Linked DNA regions of Homo sapiens. The protein of the gene in region 2 interacts with the protein of the main gene of each other region in a pairwise test. Each region holds a gene or a part of one and is shown on either strand. Other genes may lie near its edges.

Region 1 (7,712 bases), on a different chromosome or scaffold from region 2:
CTCCTTCCAAGACAGAAGGTCCTAGAAGATGCACTCAAAAAAGAATCAGCATGGCAAGGGAAACCCAGGCAGCTGCCCAGGAAGCAGCGCTGGTGAGTTGTCCAATGGCTACCTCCATGGCTGAGCATCCACAGGGGCCTATCTCCTCTTCACTCACAGGCCCCTTGGCTCTCTAGCCTCTCTGCCCAGGATTTGCCTTCAGCACTTGAGCACAACCCACGTGGGCTGAGGATCATGTTTGGCTGCATTATCCCACTTCTCAGCAGGGGTTAAGCACAGGCTGGTTCCCTAGGGCAAGATCACCCAAAGTTTGATTTGCCAGTAATCTCAATGTCTGCTCCACTGCAGGGCCCCAACCAGGGCAATGCTTGGCCAGAGTTGGAGAACTGAGTTTACCCCAGGGAGTGGGGAGCCCTGTTAGAATCTGACAAGGTACAGAAGGGCTACCAGCCAGCTTCTTCCCAGAACACATCATTGGTAGGTGATGGAGGCACATTCTTTATTCTCCAGGGAAACCTACCTGCCAGATCGCAAACCCTGACCCTGTCCCACCCTAGCCAACTGGTGCTAGGATAGGTAGATTCCTGCAAAACCAGAAGCCAAATTTTATCTCTGAGGCCCCTGAACCTCCTCCACATCAAGCTGATCTCATTCCTAGGAAACAGGTTACAGAAAGCAGTCAGTTAAACTTGGGGCAGGAATCTGTATTAGTGACTTCAACTGCTTCCCCACAGCAGGCACTATAGTCCGAAATACAGTACTTAGCCTGCTTAGCAAAGCTGTGCTAAGGATCAAACCTACCTACCTTCCTAAAAAAGAGGGTGTGTGTGTGTATGTGTGTGCTTAATATACTTGAAGAATAGAAAGTGGATCATTTAACCAACATTTGGAGGCGAGGTCCAATCAGTTCAACCTGAGAATTCCAGGAAGGGTGATGGCTGGCAGGATTCCTTCATTTGCTTGCAAAGAGGATCAAATTCCAAACCAGTAAGTCTATTACTGTAACCAGAACCTGTTGGAGTCACCTATTTGCACAGGTAGCTGTAGTACCTGACTTCCCCGGGCTCTGCTGAATTCACAGGAACTCCTGAGCAGCAAAAAGAGTTGGCAAGTGGGCAGGTTATAGGGCTACACGCTTTGATTACTGAGCCTCAAGATCCCAGGGCACTAGCCAAGCAGGTAAGCCACAGCCAGAAAAATGGCAGCTTCTCTATCCTCCAGAAAGACAGGGACAGACAGAGCAAAGAGCCTCAGCTTGTGATGTTTAAGTCTCCTCTGATGAGTTTAATTCAGGGCAGAGTTTTAGGTTTCAGGGATACCTGCCAGTCCCTATATGGGCAAAGGTGGAGCTGGCACAGAACCAGACTAAAGACAGAGCAAGGAAAGCAAGGCCAGACAGGGTATACGTTCAAGCTCAATACAGGAAGGATGAGAACTGAGCCTAAGACAAAGCAGAACCAAACAAGGGAAGTGGGTGGTGGGTAGGCAGGGATCCAAGATCCATTATGAGCCTGAATCCTTTAGCCTAACATCAAAGCCCCTCACTACCGGCTGCCCAGGCTTCTGCTCCAGCTTACACCTGTAATCCCAGCAATTTAAGAGGGCAAGGTGGGAGGATTGAGCAAACCCAGGTACTCGAGACCAGCCTGGGTAACATAGCAAGACCCCATACAAAAAATTTAAAAGTTAGTGAGGTGTGGTGGCACATGCCTGTGGTCTCAACTACTTGGGAGGCTGAGGCAGGAGGATCGCTTGAGCCTAGAAGGCTGCAGTGAGCCATGTTTGTGCCACTGCACTCCAGCCTGGGTGACAGAGAGAGACCATTTCAAAATATAATAATAGTACCACAAAAAAAAAAAAGTGTGTAGCTATTTACATAGCATTTACACTGTATCAGGTTTTATAAGTAATCTAGAGATTATTTAAATTATATGGAGGGCGTGGTGGCACGTGCCTGCAGTCCCAGCTACCTGGGAGGCTGAGGTGGGAGGATTATCTGAGCCCAGGGAGTTCGAAGATGCAGTGAGCTATGATTGCACCACTACACTCCAGCCTGGGAGACAAGAGTGAGACCCTGACTCAAAAAAAAAAAAAGAAAAGAAAAAAGAGTATACAGGAGGGTGATGTGGTGGCTCACACCTGTAATCCCAGCATTTTGAGAGGCCAAGGAAGGAGGATAGCTTGAGCCAGGAGTTTGAGACCAGCCTGGGCAACATGGTGAGACCCTGTCTCTACAAAAATGAAATAAAATAAAAATTAGCCGGGTATGGTTGTTTATGCCTGTGGTTCCAGCTACACAGGAGGCTGAGGCAGGAGGATCCCTTGAGCCCAGGAGGTCGAGGCTGCAGTGAGCCATGTTCCTGCCACTGCACTCCAGCCTGGGTCACAGAATGAGACCTTGTCTCAAAAAAAAAAAGTATACAGCAATCCCCTGCGGATACTGAGGGATAAATGTATCTAACACACACACTCACACACGTGGGCTACTAGAAAGGCAGTGACTGCGAATTGCTACTTCCCAGCCACTGTGAGAGATGTGGAAACCCCTGCTCCAGGACAACCACCACTTCCCCAACTTGGCAACCTCTCCTGCTCACCATCTAGCACCTGCTTCCAAATACTTCAAGGACAGCAGGAAGTTCTTTTCTGACAAGATTTGGCCTAATTTTTAAATAGCACTCAGCACTTTTTGGCAGGCCTAGGGCTACTTCCAACATCCCATGGCTTTCCTTTTTTAATTTTACCAACTTTTTAAATACACTTTGTACTTTGGGCAGCCCGGGTAAGCGTTCAGTGTGAGGAGCTGACACGGCCATCATTTAAACTAGATTAAACGACACTGGACAAATAATCGCAGAGCAGCACAAAGTCGGGCTGGACGGGTACAGATGCAAACCCTCCACTCAGGGCTCGGGGGTCCCTCCTGCTCCAGGCGGCCCCACCCGTACAGCCGGGAAAGTGAGGTCGCACAGATGGACGGCCGCCTACCCACGCACAGTCGCAAACAGAGCTTCATGGGCACACAGGGGAAAATAAGGACACACACAGACAGCCGTGGACCCACGCTCGCGGACACAGCTCCCCGAACCTCCCCTCCCGCGCCGCCGCGAGAACCCAGCTTCCCAGCCCCCTTCCACTGCTCACCCGCGCCAGGCGCGTCTCGGGGCCGCTCCCAAATATCGCGGTATCTCTGCCGCTCTCCCGCGGAATCTGACTGGCACGCCTCACGAGAGCACCGGGCTGGCTGTATGTCGCGCAGCCTTCTGGGAGCTGTAGTCCACTTCTCTGCCTTCCGGGAGTTGTAGTCCACTGGGGAAATCCTGGAGCAAACCCTGGCCCTGTTCTTTGTATTGCTGGGACTCTCGATAGGGGCTGGCATAACTGTCCGACCTCCTTTCCTCACTCCTATCAGCCCCACACACACTGCTTGTTGCTTGGGGCCTTTTTTTTTTTTTTTTTTTTTTTGCTGTTGTCCCAGGTTTATTGAAAATATTACAGTATCTCAAAAAGATTCAAACAGCTTCCACGTGGCGTTTTGAAATTCATCCCCACTGTTGGCTGAGTGACCTGCAGGTTGGACAGACTGCCAAAGTCCAAAAACATCAGCATTTCCTTAATGTCAGGATATGTTAATACTTCAATGATTTCCTGATCCAGGGCTGAGACCTCAGGAACATGATTATCTCTCCTTTCTCTCTTCTCCTCCTGCAACTTGATGCAGATACCTCTCACTGAGCGCTTCAAATCAGCTTCATCACATGCATGTTGTAGCCTGCTATCTTGTTGGGGAGCTGTTTTTTTTTTTGTTTTTTTTTTTTTTTTTGAGACAGGGTCTGGCTCTGTCACCCAGACTGGAGTGCGCAGTGGTGCTATCTCCACTCACTGCAACCTCCACCTTTTGGGCTTAAGCCATCCTCCTATCTCAGCCTATGGAGTAGCCAGGACTACAGGAGTGCACCATCATGCCAGACTAATGTTTGTATTTTTTGTAGAGACGGGTTCTCACTCTATTGCCCAGGCTGGTCTCAAACTCCTAGGCTCAAACAATCCGCCCACCTTGGCCTCCCAAAGTGCTGGGACTACAGGAGTGAGCCACCACGCTCGGCCCTGGGGAGCATTTTGCTGGAAATAATGGTGATCTCCTTGCACATGTGTTGTTTGTGTGGAAGTTGCTGCCCGGGTGTGTGTATTACTTTTTTATGACGAAGTATAGAAAAGGGCTATCTTCATGGTATTAGTGTGAATGGGGCCCATGTTGGCAGGTCCTTAGTAAAAGAGGGCTCGTGGCACTTAATATTTACCAAGCCTCTTCTATTTTAGGTGCACAGGATACAGAGATAAATCAGATGCGTCCCTGTTCTTGAGACAAACAGGGACACAGAAAATGACAGGGTAAGATCCTCCATGAGGAAGCAACACCTCTAGGCAGGAAAGCCTTCTTGAAGGAGTGACTTGAAATGAATCTTGAAGGACAGCCAGGAGGTTAGATAGAGGATCCCAATAGCGATCCAGGTGGAAGGCATCAAATGGGCAAAGGGAAGGCGGCAGAAGAACACACACTGGCATGCTTCCCTGCCCCCTTCATTTTCTAGCCTTCACAGGCCCCAGGAACCTCTGTATTCATTGAGGTGGCTGAACCAGCTGCGGGTCCCCTGCCCTGAGCTGAGGTGGGGCCTCTGCTCTACCCCCGCCCTTAGCCGCAGTGGACCATCTGGGCCAAACCATCCCTTACGCAGGGATCCAGCCGTGTCTTTTTTTTTTGAGATGGAGTCTTGCTGTGTCGCCCAGGCTGGAGTGCAGTGGTGCGATCTCGGCTCACTGCAAGCTCCGCCTCCTGTGTTCACGCCATTCTCCCGCCTCAGCCTCCCGAGTAGCTGGGACTACAGGTGCCTGCCACCTCGCCCGCCTAATTTTTTGTATTTTTAGTAGAGATGGGGTTTCACCGTGTTAGCCAGGATGGTCTCGATCTCCTGACCTCGTGATCCACCCGCCTCAGCCTCCCAAAGTGCTAGGATTACAGGTGTGAGCCACCACGCCCGGCCGATCCAGCCTGCTTCTTCTACTTCCTCCTCCCAAGGCAGGGGGCCTAGGTGGCAATTTCATCACCTACTGAAGGCTGCCTCAGAGAAGGAGCCACACAGGGTCGTATAGCTCTAGGTCTCGGGGAATGACAGACCACAGATCCACCCACCCCCCATACTTTCATGCCCCTGCCCCACAGCCCGCTGTGAGGCTCCACGCAAGTCCACAGGAAGACACATGACACAGCAGAACACACAGGGCCAAATGTTCCCCTTTATTATGGTTCACTCAGTTACCAAAGACAGACACATTGGCTCAGGCAGCTCAACTGCCAGCTGGGGAACATCCAGCTCCAGAAACAGGGAGCAGCAGCGGCACCAGGAGAATGGCAAAGCAGGTCACTGGGACCCCAGAACTGACCTGGGCCCTCCTTCACCCGACCCCAGGCCAGACCTTCCTACAAAGATGAATGTGTGCCCTGCCCCCACTTCTCATACTGGTTCTCTCCCCGGGAAAGTGCATAGTTGCCTGGAGATGCAGCATCCCAGGGCCTGAACAAGCTGGGCCACACACCGGGATCAGGCTTCCCAAGGGTAGAGCCAGAGCATGGCCATATAGGTCCAAGCCAAAGAGGCAGGTAGGACAGGAAACTGATTGGAGGTAACATCCAACAGGTCATGGATGCTAGGCAGGGAGCTGGATCACAGGCCTCCTGGAGCTACCAGAGAGAGAAGGGAAAGGGAGCCAAAGTTCTGGGGTAGGGGAGAGGAAGGGAAAGGGAAGAAGGGCCTAGACCTAGGTACCTTTTCAGGTACCAGGGACTGTGACCATTGCTCCCAAGAGAGAAAATGGGAGAGGGGAGAGGCAATTATATTTTGTGCCCAAACCTAAAGGACCATCAGGAAGAGAATTTCCAGAGGCCCCTGGCTCAGGATGGCCTGTAAGCCTAGGTATTGGGTTCCAAGCTGAAGCCAGGCCAGAGTAGCCAAGTGGGGTTTGGATTTTTGTCCAAACAGCTCAGGCAAGCTTCTGGTGGGAGAAGGGAAGGTGGGAAATGGGCAGATGCTCTTTGGGCGAGAACCCACTCCCCTTCAGGCCCCGCACACAGCTAGAGCCTCTACCAGCCATGTTCTCACACTGCTTGGAACAGAACAGCCCCACGGGCCTAAAACCACTCTCCTGAAAGTGGTAGGGAGTTCCGACTGGGTGAGGACAAGCCAAGACCAAGGCCTGTAGGCAGAAGGGAGCAAGTTACCTTGATTTGGAAAACAAAACAAAACTAAAGCCAGAGAGCCTCCCCTCCCACCCTGCCTAACCTGAAATCCCATTCAGGCTATTGTGCTTGCAGCCAGGACTGGGCCTGTGCTTCTGCTTGGGCCCTGAGTTCAAGTGCCCAGAACCGCCCTGTGACCAAGAGCAAGCCAGGGTGGGGGAAGGCATGCTCCCCTCTCACTGGGCCCTGCCTGCCTTCTCCTCTGACCTTCCCTCCGTGCCTAGCCCTCTGAGCCCTGTCCTACCAGATCCAAACAGAACAGCTACTGCTTCCAGGAATCCAACGGTCACCGAGAGATACCTAAATGCCTCACTGTGCTGGAGCCAGCCAGACCTTCCCCAGGGACCAATCATTACTGACATGCCCTCTGCTCCAGCTGTGCCTTTACATCTGACAACTGCCCAGCATGTCCCAGCTCCTCAGGGAAGGCAGTAAGGCAGATGCCACCTGGCACATGGTGGGGTCAGGGTAGCAGAATCAAGCCACAGCAACTGGGGGCATGGGGAGGAGGCAGAGGGACATAGGCAGAGGGGCTCAAGGGGGCTCTGGGGAGAGAAGGAGGAGAAGGCAGGGGAGAGAAAAGATGAGCCTGCCCCTGCAGATCAAACTCTCAGGCCCAAGCAGACTCATCCTTGCATTTTCATCCCCTGGGGGTCAGGTACCCAGGTGGGCTCTGCACCCCCAGCTGTGTGCCCCTCCTACATCAGGGGTAAGGCCCAGCTCCCCATCAGCTTCCTTGAACTGTAAATCAGATTAGATTTGGGGATCTGGGCTCAGTCTCAGGAGCAGATAAAACTGGGACACTCAGCCTTGGGGAAGACAAAGAAAAGCCACATAGGAAAGAGATAGACAGACCATGGGCAAGGGAAGATTGCACAGGGAATGTGACATCAGGGAACAGATGAGGGAGGAGGAGGCTGAAGGAGGCGAGGCCTGGAGGGATCAAAAGAGCAAGGGAATATCCCTGGCCTGTACCCACCCTCCCACCCACCACCAAGAGTGCTAAGTACTGTTACTTCCCAGGAAGACTGAAAGTAGAAACAGTTCCAGCTCATAACCCTAGGAAGGGGCCAGTCTTTCTGCTATGCCTCCCCTGGCCCCGTGAGGGGTCCCTGGGCCAGGGTCAGAGGGGCCAGAGGCAAGAGGGGCAGGTGGAGGGTGGGGGTGGGGGCTGGTTTAGCTCTAAACACACATCTAGCACCACAAGAGACCTCCACTGCACACTATTTCACGAGGGGACACAGACACAGCTACTACCGCACGGGACAGCTCCACGTGCAGCCCACAGCTGAGTGCCAAGAGCAGAATCTGAAAGGTGGGGGCTGGGGTACAGACATATACATATATATATATATATAACTCTGGTCCTTTGTACAAAGTAGGGAAGGAGAAAAGGGAAGGGGGAACCCTGCTTGGT
Region 2 (7,195 bases):
GGAGTCTGAATAGCACTGTCATTTAGCAACTTGAATTTAACATCTGTGGTCTAAGGTGAACTGGTCACAAACAGCAGAATTTGTCAAATAAATAAATAAGCCAGTGCAAAAATATGATAGGCTAACAAATGGTAGAGGTTTCATTTCCATAAGGAGCCTCAGAGTCCCTGAAATATATTCAACTTGGGCCGTAAATTCCCAAAGTGACCACATTTTAATGACGTTTACCCCCTCGTTTAAAAGGTTGCACTATAAGCATATTCTCGGCATAGTGCCCATTCAGAGTAAAGAAAGAATAGCTTTTATTGAGCAGCTTTATTCTGATACTTCCAAAATCTAATTTGGCCCTGTTTTCTCCTCAACAACAAAGAGATAAAGGCTTCATTGCAGCTCAAAATGTTAATCATACCAAATAAACATTTAAGAACAGATGAAATGCCAAAAAAGGACAGTGAAGGGAAAGAAGATTATAAAAACAAATAAGAGGTGGTCATCTCTAGAGGTGACTTTGAAATCAAATAGTTATAAGTTCCTGGAAGAAAATCTCTTCAGAATGTTCCCCTATAGTAGAAGCAGCCTGTGTAGCCCAGGCTTCATTCAGGGTTGGGAGAATAAGAAGGGGTCGGCTGGGTGTGGTGACTCACACCTGTAATCCCAGCACTTTGGGAGGCTGAGGTGGGCAGATCACCTGAGGTCAGGAGTTCGAGACTAGCCTAGCCAACATGGCAAAACCCCATGTCTACTAAAAATACAAAAGCTTAGACAGGCATGGTGGCATGTGCCTGTAAGGGACCCAGCTACTTGGGAGGCTGAGGCACAAGAACTGCTTGAGCCCAGGAAGTGGAGGTTGCAGTGAGCCGAGATTGTGGCACTGCACTCTAGCCTGGGTTGACAGAGTGAGACTCTGTCTCAAAAAAAAAAAAAAAAAAAAAAAAAAAAGAAGGGGTGAGCAACTGTTCATAATTACCTCAATGAAGTATTCTGAACAAATAATACATTGGAGCTCATTCTCTAGCACATCATTCATGTGGCTAAGAACTTCTTCCTTCTGTGCTTGCATCTTCTCCTTCTCTTCCTGCAAGACACACAATCCTACCTGTCATTCAGAGAACCAACAAAAATGCAAAATGGGACAGGGAGCAGGGTCAATTATTTAGAAGAGGATTCAGTCTTAATGAGTGATTCATTCTGGTGCAGCAACATTAAGAATAGAACACTTTCCCTAAGGCTTATTGTTTTTCAATAATTGTTTTCTAATACAGAGCACTAACCTCCTTTCTTTCCTCTCCCTACTTGCTATGGTCTGAATGTTTGTGCTTCCTCCCAAATTCCCATGTTGAAACTTATTTTCAAACGTGATGGTATTAAGAGGTGGGGCCTTTGGGAGGTGACTAGGTCATGAGGGCTCCATGCTCATAAATGGGGTTAGTGGCCTTAAAGGGGCCCAAGGAGAGCTCATTTGCCCCTTCCGCCATATAGGGACAGACATGGCAAGACTCCATCTACGAATCAGAAGACAGCCCTCACCAGACACCAAACATGCCAGCATCTTGATCTTGGATTTCCCAACCTCCAGTACTGTGAGAAATAAATTTCTGTTGTTTTTAAGCTACGCAGTTTATGGGTCTTTTTTGTAGTAGCCTGAATGGACTAAAACACCACTTTTTCAGTATTTGCATTGCAAATTCTGTCTCCTTCCCCAAAATTAATCAAATGAGAAAAATGCAGGTGACATACTAACCACACCAACCACCCAAGACCAGATGGGACATTAAGTAGTTTATAGCAAGCTGTAGTTCAGACATTACATAAGATTATCCCAAACAATTAAAAACTCACTGGACAAGAAAAGAGGCATGAATAGTCCAGAGGCAGGAAACTTGAATTAGTTATAAAGTTGCTGTGTTCTTTGCAGCTGCCTTTTCTGTAAAGTAAGGTACACCTCTGGAGGCAGAAGGCTGGAGACAGGCCTCTTGAATTACCTTCAGGCTCCATGCTCTATGATACCTGCCACTTCCCACTCCTGCAGAGGCCTGCAGTACCATCTCCCCGGCTTTCCCCAAGAGGTCAGACTGCGTGTGGACACACTTTTTAAGGAGGCTCCTACGTATGCTCTCTTGAAGCAGACATTTATTTTAGCACTTCACCCCCAAAACAAAAAGCATTAAGAGCCCCTGAGGGGGAGAGGATAGGCCATTTGAGGTATATTTGAGTGGCTGGCTCATTTTTAATTGTTTTATTTTCTTTTCCACTCAAAGCAAAGACTGGCAGACTGCTTAGGGCAGTGAAGAAGGTCTGGACCCATTTCTAACCATAGTCAAATTCCCTGAGAACTTATGAATCACTGGGTTTAAAAAGATGTGGCAGTTTCTTGGAGGTTGGAGAGGAAGGTATTATGTGATTTAAACAGGAAATCAAACCAGCTAAAACAAGTCCCTCCTTCAGTTCTAGGTTGGTACATGGAGGGGGTGGGATGACAGATGCAGTCAGACTCAGGTATTAATTTCAAGTCAGAGGTTGCAAATTGGTGGCCTGTGGACTGGATCCACCCTGCAGACTTGTTTAGTTTGGCCTTCATATTAAAACACACACAAAAAGCTGAAGTTGTTGCCAATATTTAAAATTTGGGATATTTCACTTAAACATTTGGACTTTCATCTGCTGTGGAAAAATCAGAAGATCTGACAACACTGGGCCTGCACTTCTGGATGGCAACAATTGGCTGAGCAGAGAAGAGTTGCCTCCTGGGATGGGGGTGTGGGCAAGTACCCCATCCAATAAGCCATAGCCCGCACAGCTCCCTACTGTGTTCTTACATTCAGGCCACTTCACTCACTTTGATTACCAGTCTGGCCCTGGTGGGCATTTAAGTTTATAACCCCTAATTCAAGAGTTCTCCTGATTTGACATGGGAAGAAACTGCATTAAGTAATTCACTTTACTTTATGTAATTCAAATTACATAGTTCAGGAGGAACTATTTCTTGACTACAATATTCCTCAGTCTGTATCAGTGACACACTCTGAAGGAGTACCCACCATAGACAAAGGACTAGAATACAGGATGCAAGTGCCTTATTCCCAGCATTTTGCTTCTGAACAAGGGAAGGAAATAGATGTTGTCTGACAGGCAGAACCTGCTATAGGCCTCTATAATTTTATAGATTATCTCCCCAGAGGCAAGGAGCAGCCATAATTTCTCTCTTTATTTTCCCTAGCAACCCTTGCACTGTTGAAAATGCTGAGTTGCATGCACTAACCAAATTCTAAACTTCCATCTTCTTTCCAGTACCTTGGTCTGCTCTAATTCTTTGTTCTTGGCTTGAATGATTGCTTCAAAGTCCTTCTTGCTGCGATTTAGCTCTTCCATTAGAGCCCAATGCTGCAAAAACATAGCAGATACATACTCAGGATGAACTACAATGCATCCTTCCTTTTAGCCACAAACATGCCTGTTCTCTCCCTCTAGTTAGTGACTTTGTGGTTCAGGGATCGATAAATTGGCAATTTCAAAATAATACCTTTATTCCATTGGGCTATCTTACCTACCTGCTGCTTTTTTCAGGGGAGAGGGCAGTTAGGGAAGGCGGCCACCAAATGGACTAGGGCCTCTAAAACTAACCCAACATTGGTGGCCATCCAAGTCAACTGAAGAACTTTCACTGTGTCCCAGAGTCTGCTTCTATAGGTTTGGCTTGGAGCCCAGAAATGTGCTTTTCTTTTTTTCTTTTTTTTTAAAGCCACCCAAGTGATTCTGGGAACAGTATTTAAGAACTAGTAAGTAATTAAAAGCTATTCAGAACTGGAAGCAGCTTTTATGAAATAATCAGGAGGAAATGGGAATCAGCAGAATTAGATAGTCATTTTTATTGAAATAAAAAAGATTTTTAACCTATTTGTTCTACAAATCACATATTACATGCTCAGACAATGCTGCCTGAACCCTGCCAGTGTTTTCTGGAAGAAGGCACACCCAGGAGCTAACAGCTCATTCATTGTGACTAAATGCCTATGCTGAATGTCAAGAGGTTCCACATATATGAAACATAATTTATGAGTTCTCTCATGCTTAAGTATAGCTTATACTTTAGAATCTCACCTCAAATTCTTTTTAAAAGAAGGTGGAGTAAAGGTAAGTATTTTTGAAAAGATATTATTCAAGAACCAAATTTTAAAATGTGTGATCTCCTGACAAAAAAAAGCAGTTATGTCAAAAGGCCTGGGTCTTCAACTTGACACACTAATTAGATATGTGTATTTTAACTTTCTCATCTATAAAATGGGAAAATATGGCCGGGCGTGGTAGCTCATAATACCTGTAATCCCAGCACTTTGGGAGGCTGAGCCGGGTGGATGGCTTGAGCTCAGGAGTTTGAGACCAGCCTCGGCAACATGGTGAAACCTCATCTCTACCAAAAATACAAAAAAATTGTCGGGCATTGTGGCGCGCGCCTATGGTTCCAGCTACTCAGGAGGCTGAAGTGGGAGGATCACTTGAGCCCAGGAGGCGGAGGCTGCAGTGAGCTGAGATTGCACCACTGCACTCCAGCCTGGGTGACAGAACGAGACACTGTCTCAAAATAAAAATAAAAGGAAATGGGAAAATAGGTGCCCCCTCCTCCCTCAGTGTTCATAAGAAAATAACAGGTATGAAAAGCATTCAGAGAAGTTTTTTGAGCTGTATATAAACACATCTTTTTATTTTCTTTTCCACTCAAAGCAAAGACTGGCAGACTGCTTAGGGCAGTGAAGGTCTGGACCCATTTCTAACTATAGTCAAATTCCCTGAGAACTTATGAATCACTCGGTTTAAAAAGATGTGGTAGTTTCTTGGAGATTGGAGAGGAAGGTATTATGTGATTTAAACAGGAAATCAGTTATAAAAGACCATTATAAAAACAGTTTTTATAATGGTCTGGTAAAGAACAGCTTTCAAAAGTATCAGCATGGTGGAACAAAAAACCACCACTGCATGAGAGTGGCATGTCCCCCAGGCATGATGGTATAGAACCATGACCTAAAAGTATCACTTTTTTTTGAGACGGAGTCTTGTTGCCCAGGCTGGAGAGCAATGGCACGATCTCAGCTCACTACAACCTCCACATCCCGGGTTCAAGCGATTCTCCTGCCTCAGCCTCCTGAATAGCTGGGATTACAGGCATGCGCCACCACGCCCGGCTAATTTTGTATTTTTAGTAGAGACAGGGTTTCTCCATGTTGGTCAGGCTGGTCTTGAACTCCCTACCTCTGGTGATCCGCCTGCCTGGGCCTCCCAAAGTGCCGGGATTACAGGCGTGAGCCACCGTGCCCGGTCTAAAAGTATCACATTTTAAGCTAATAAATGCATGGCCAAGTATCCCATGCAAAATGATAGAGTGTTTTCCTGTCTCAGGAGAGGGTGCAGGGTACTCAGTGATCCCTCAGGGATTTCCAACTAGCAGAACCACATTCTTTTTCAATTTCAAAACAATGTCTGAATATTAACTTAATAATGTTCCAAATGGGAAACATGCCTACTCTCCCACCCTAGAAAATAAACAAGCTCAAAAAATAAAATTCTAAAAAGATTGAATTAATTTTCATCTAATTCTTTCCAAAGCTGTTTGTGCAACCCTCAAGGAGATCAAGGCAGGCACCCTGTCATGCTTACAATACTGTATGACTGTTAGCACTGTTAAGGTTGGGAAGTAGGTTTACGATAAAAGGATAAATTCCCCTGAACAAATTCCTATGTGATTTGCTCACTCTTTCCAATGAGATTTGAACCATCCTGACTAAATGGCACTAAACTACTAATCATAATACATAAAAGGTAGAAGACATAGTAGGTTTTAAAGATGCAAAAGAGCACACAAAAAAATAATCAAATGAGAGTAGTCAGGTTAAATTAAATAAATTACAGGCAATCTTTTAGGAGAATTTTAGTCCTGTTGAGCTTTACCTTTTCAATAAATTGATATGTGTTGTTGATTGTTAAACTGCACATTCTCAACCTGGCCTAAAATGCTTAACTGGAACATTCCCCAATTGTTTCTGGTTGGCTACAGCTCAGGAACATTGCGGTAACAGAGGCCTTCACGGGCCCTGGTGGCCAAGTCATACCTCACATTTTCCCTCTGCTGCCCTCACCTTTCTAGAAGTGGAGCCACTTCCCCAGAGAGCCTCTTAACTGCTAAAGCTCCATTCCATCTTCACCAGAGCAACTTCTGCTCAGACAAAGATGTAAGTTTTCATGCTGAGGTCTGGCATGTTTGTAAGGCTCCAAATCTCTGATCTGATGGTGTGAGCAGCTGCCACCTGCTCTGTTTACAGACTGGGGATGCCACAGAGGTATGGGCTAAGCAGCAGAGGCAGCCAGTGGTCATGTGATGCCTGTTTGCTCCCCACTCCACAGCCCACTATAATCTTAGTACTATGGCAAAGTTACCTCCTGCAGAGCCTGGGCCAGCTGTTGCTTCAGGTCCTTTTCTCCTTGGGCTATCTCCAAACCCTGCAAAGCCAAAACAAAATGGAAGGTTTCTCTGCAGGGAAAAGAAAAAAAGGAACACAATCCAGCAACAAGCAGAGCAGACCAGCTAGTATGAGCATCTGGAAACAACAGGGGTGAGGGAGCAGGTGGAAAATCTCCTGTTTTACTTCAAGCTGTTGGCAGTAAAGAATTTGAGCAGTTATCTGCTCAAATACTGCACACTTCAGGACTGTCGGCTTTAAGCCACCAATTGGGTTGTTCTGGAAATACTATGGCCTAACAGTCCAAGCCTCCTTCATGGACTAACGCCATGATTCCCAAAAGGATGTAAACTGAGAACTTCTGAGCCCCCAAATACCTAAACTCAGATGTAATTCCCAGTGCTGGCACTCACAACATCTAGCATGCTTCTTTTCCCTCTACTCTGGCCATCTTGTCTCTCATTCTGAGTCTTTACCACTTCAGTTTATACACTGCTCCTCTGCTCCTCCTCTCTCCTTGCCTGAGCTTATGCTGTATTTCCTCATCAGCCCCCTCCAATGTGGAAGCTTTCCAGGTGATCATTAACCTATATGTCCAGCACCTTCCAAAAGAACTTCTGGGCCCTTCTGTCCTTAAGAATTACCTACCCATTTAATATGCCAACTTGAAATTGTTCTCTAATTTACTATATTGACTGAAAACTATTCTCTGATTATATCGTGTGCAGGAAACATCTTGCCTCCTC

Evidence for each region. The genes of interacting proteins can lie anywhere in the genome.
Region 1: the proteins of RNF8 (region 2) and PPCDC interact in binary tests that used the Homo sapiens proteins (3 or more experiments, as listed by UniProt).

What each region holds. Positions count from the first base shown.
Region 1 is NC_000015.10:75,019,059-75,026,770, reverse strand, and holds the start of PPCDC (phosphopantothenoylcysteine decarboxylase), read right to left. Parts: upstream 3,182-7,712; 5' UTR 3,145-3,181; intron 1-3,144. UniProt on the Homo sapiens protein: Catalyzes the decarboxylation of the cysteine moiety of 4-phosphopantothenoylcysteine to form 4'-phosphopantotheine and this reaction forms part of the biosynthesis of coenzyme A.
Region 2 is NC_000006.12:37,370,806-37,378,000, reverse strand, and holds part of RNF8 (E3 ubiquitin-protein ligase RNF8), read right to left. Parts: intron 6,490-7,195; coding exon 6,427-6,489; intron 3,382-6,426; coding exon 3,292-3,381; intron 1,076-3,291; coding exon 968-1,075; intron 1-967. UniProt on the Homo sapiens protein: E3 ubiquitin-protein ligase that plays a key role in DNA damage signaling via 2 distinct roles: by mediating the 'Lys-63'-linked ubiquitination of histones H2A and H2AX and promoting the recruitment of DNA repair proteins at double-strand breaks (DSBs) sites, and by catalyzing 'Lys-48'-linked ubiquitination to remove target proteins from DNA damage sites.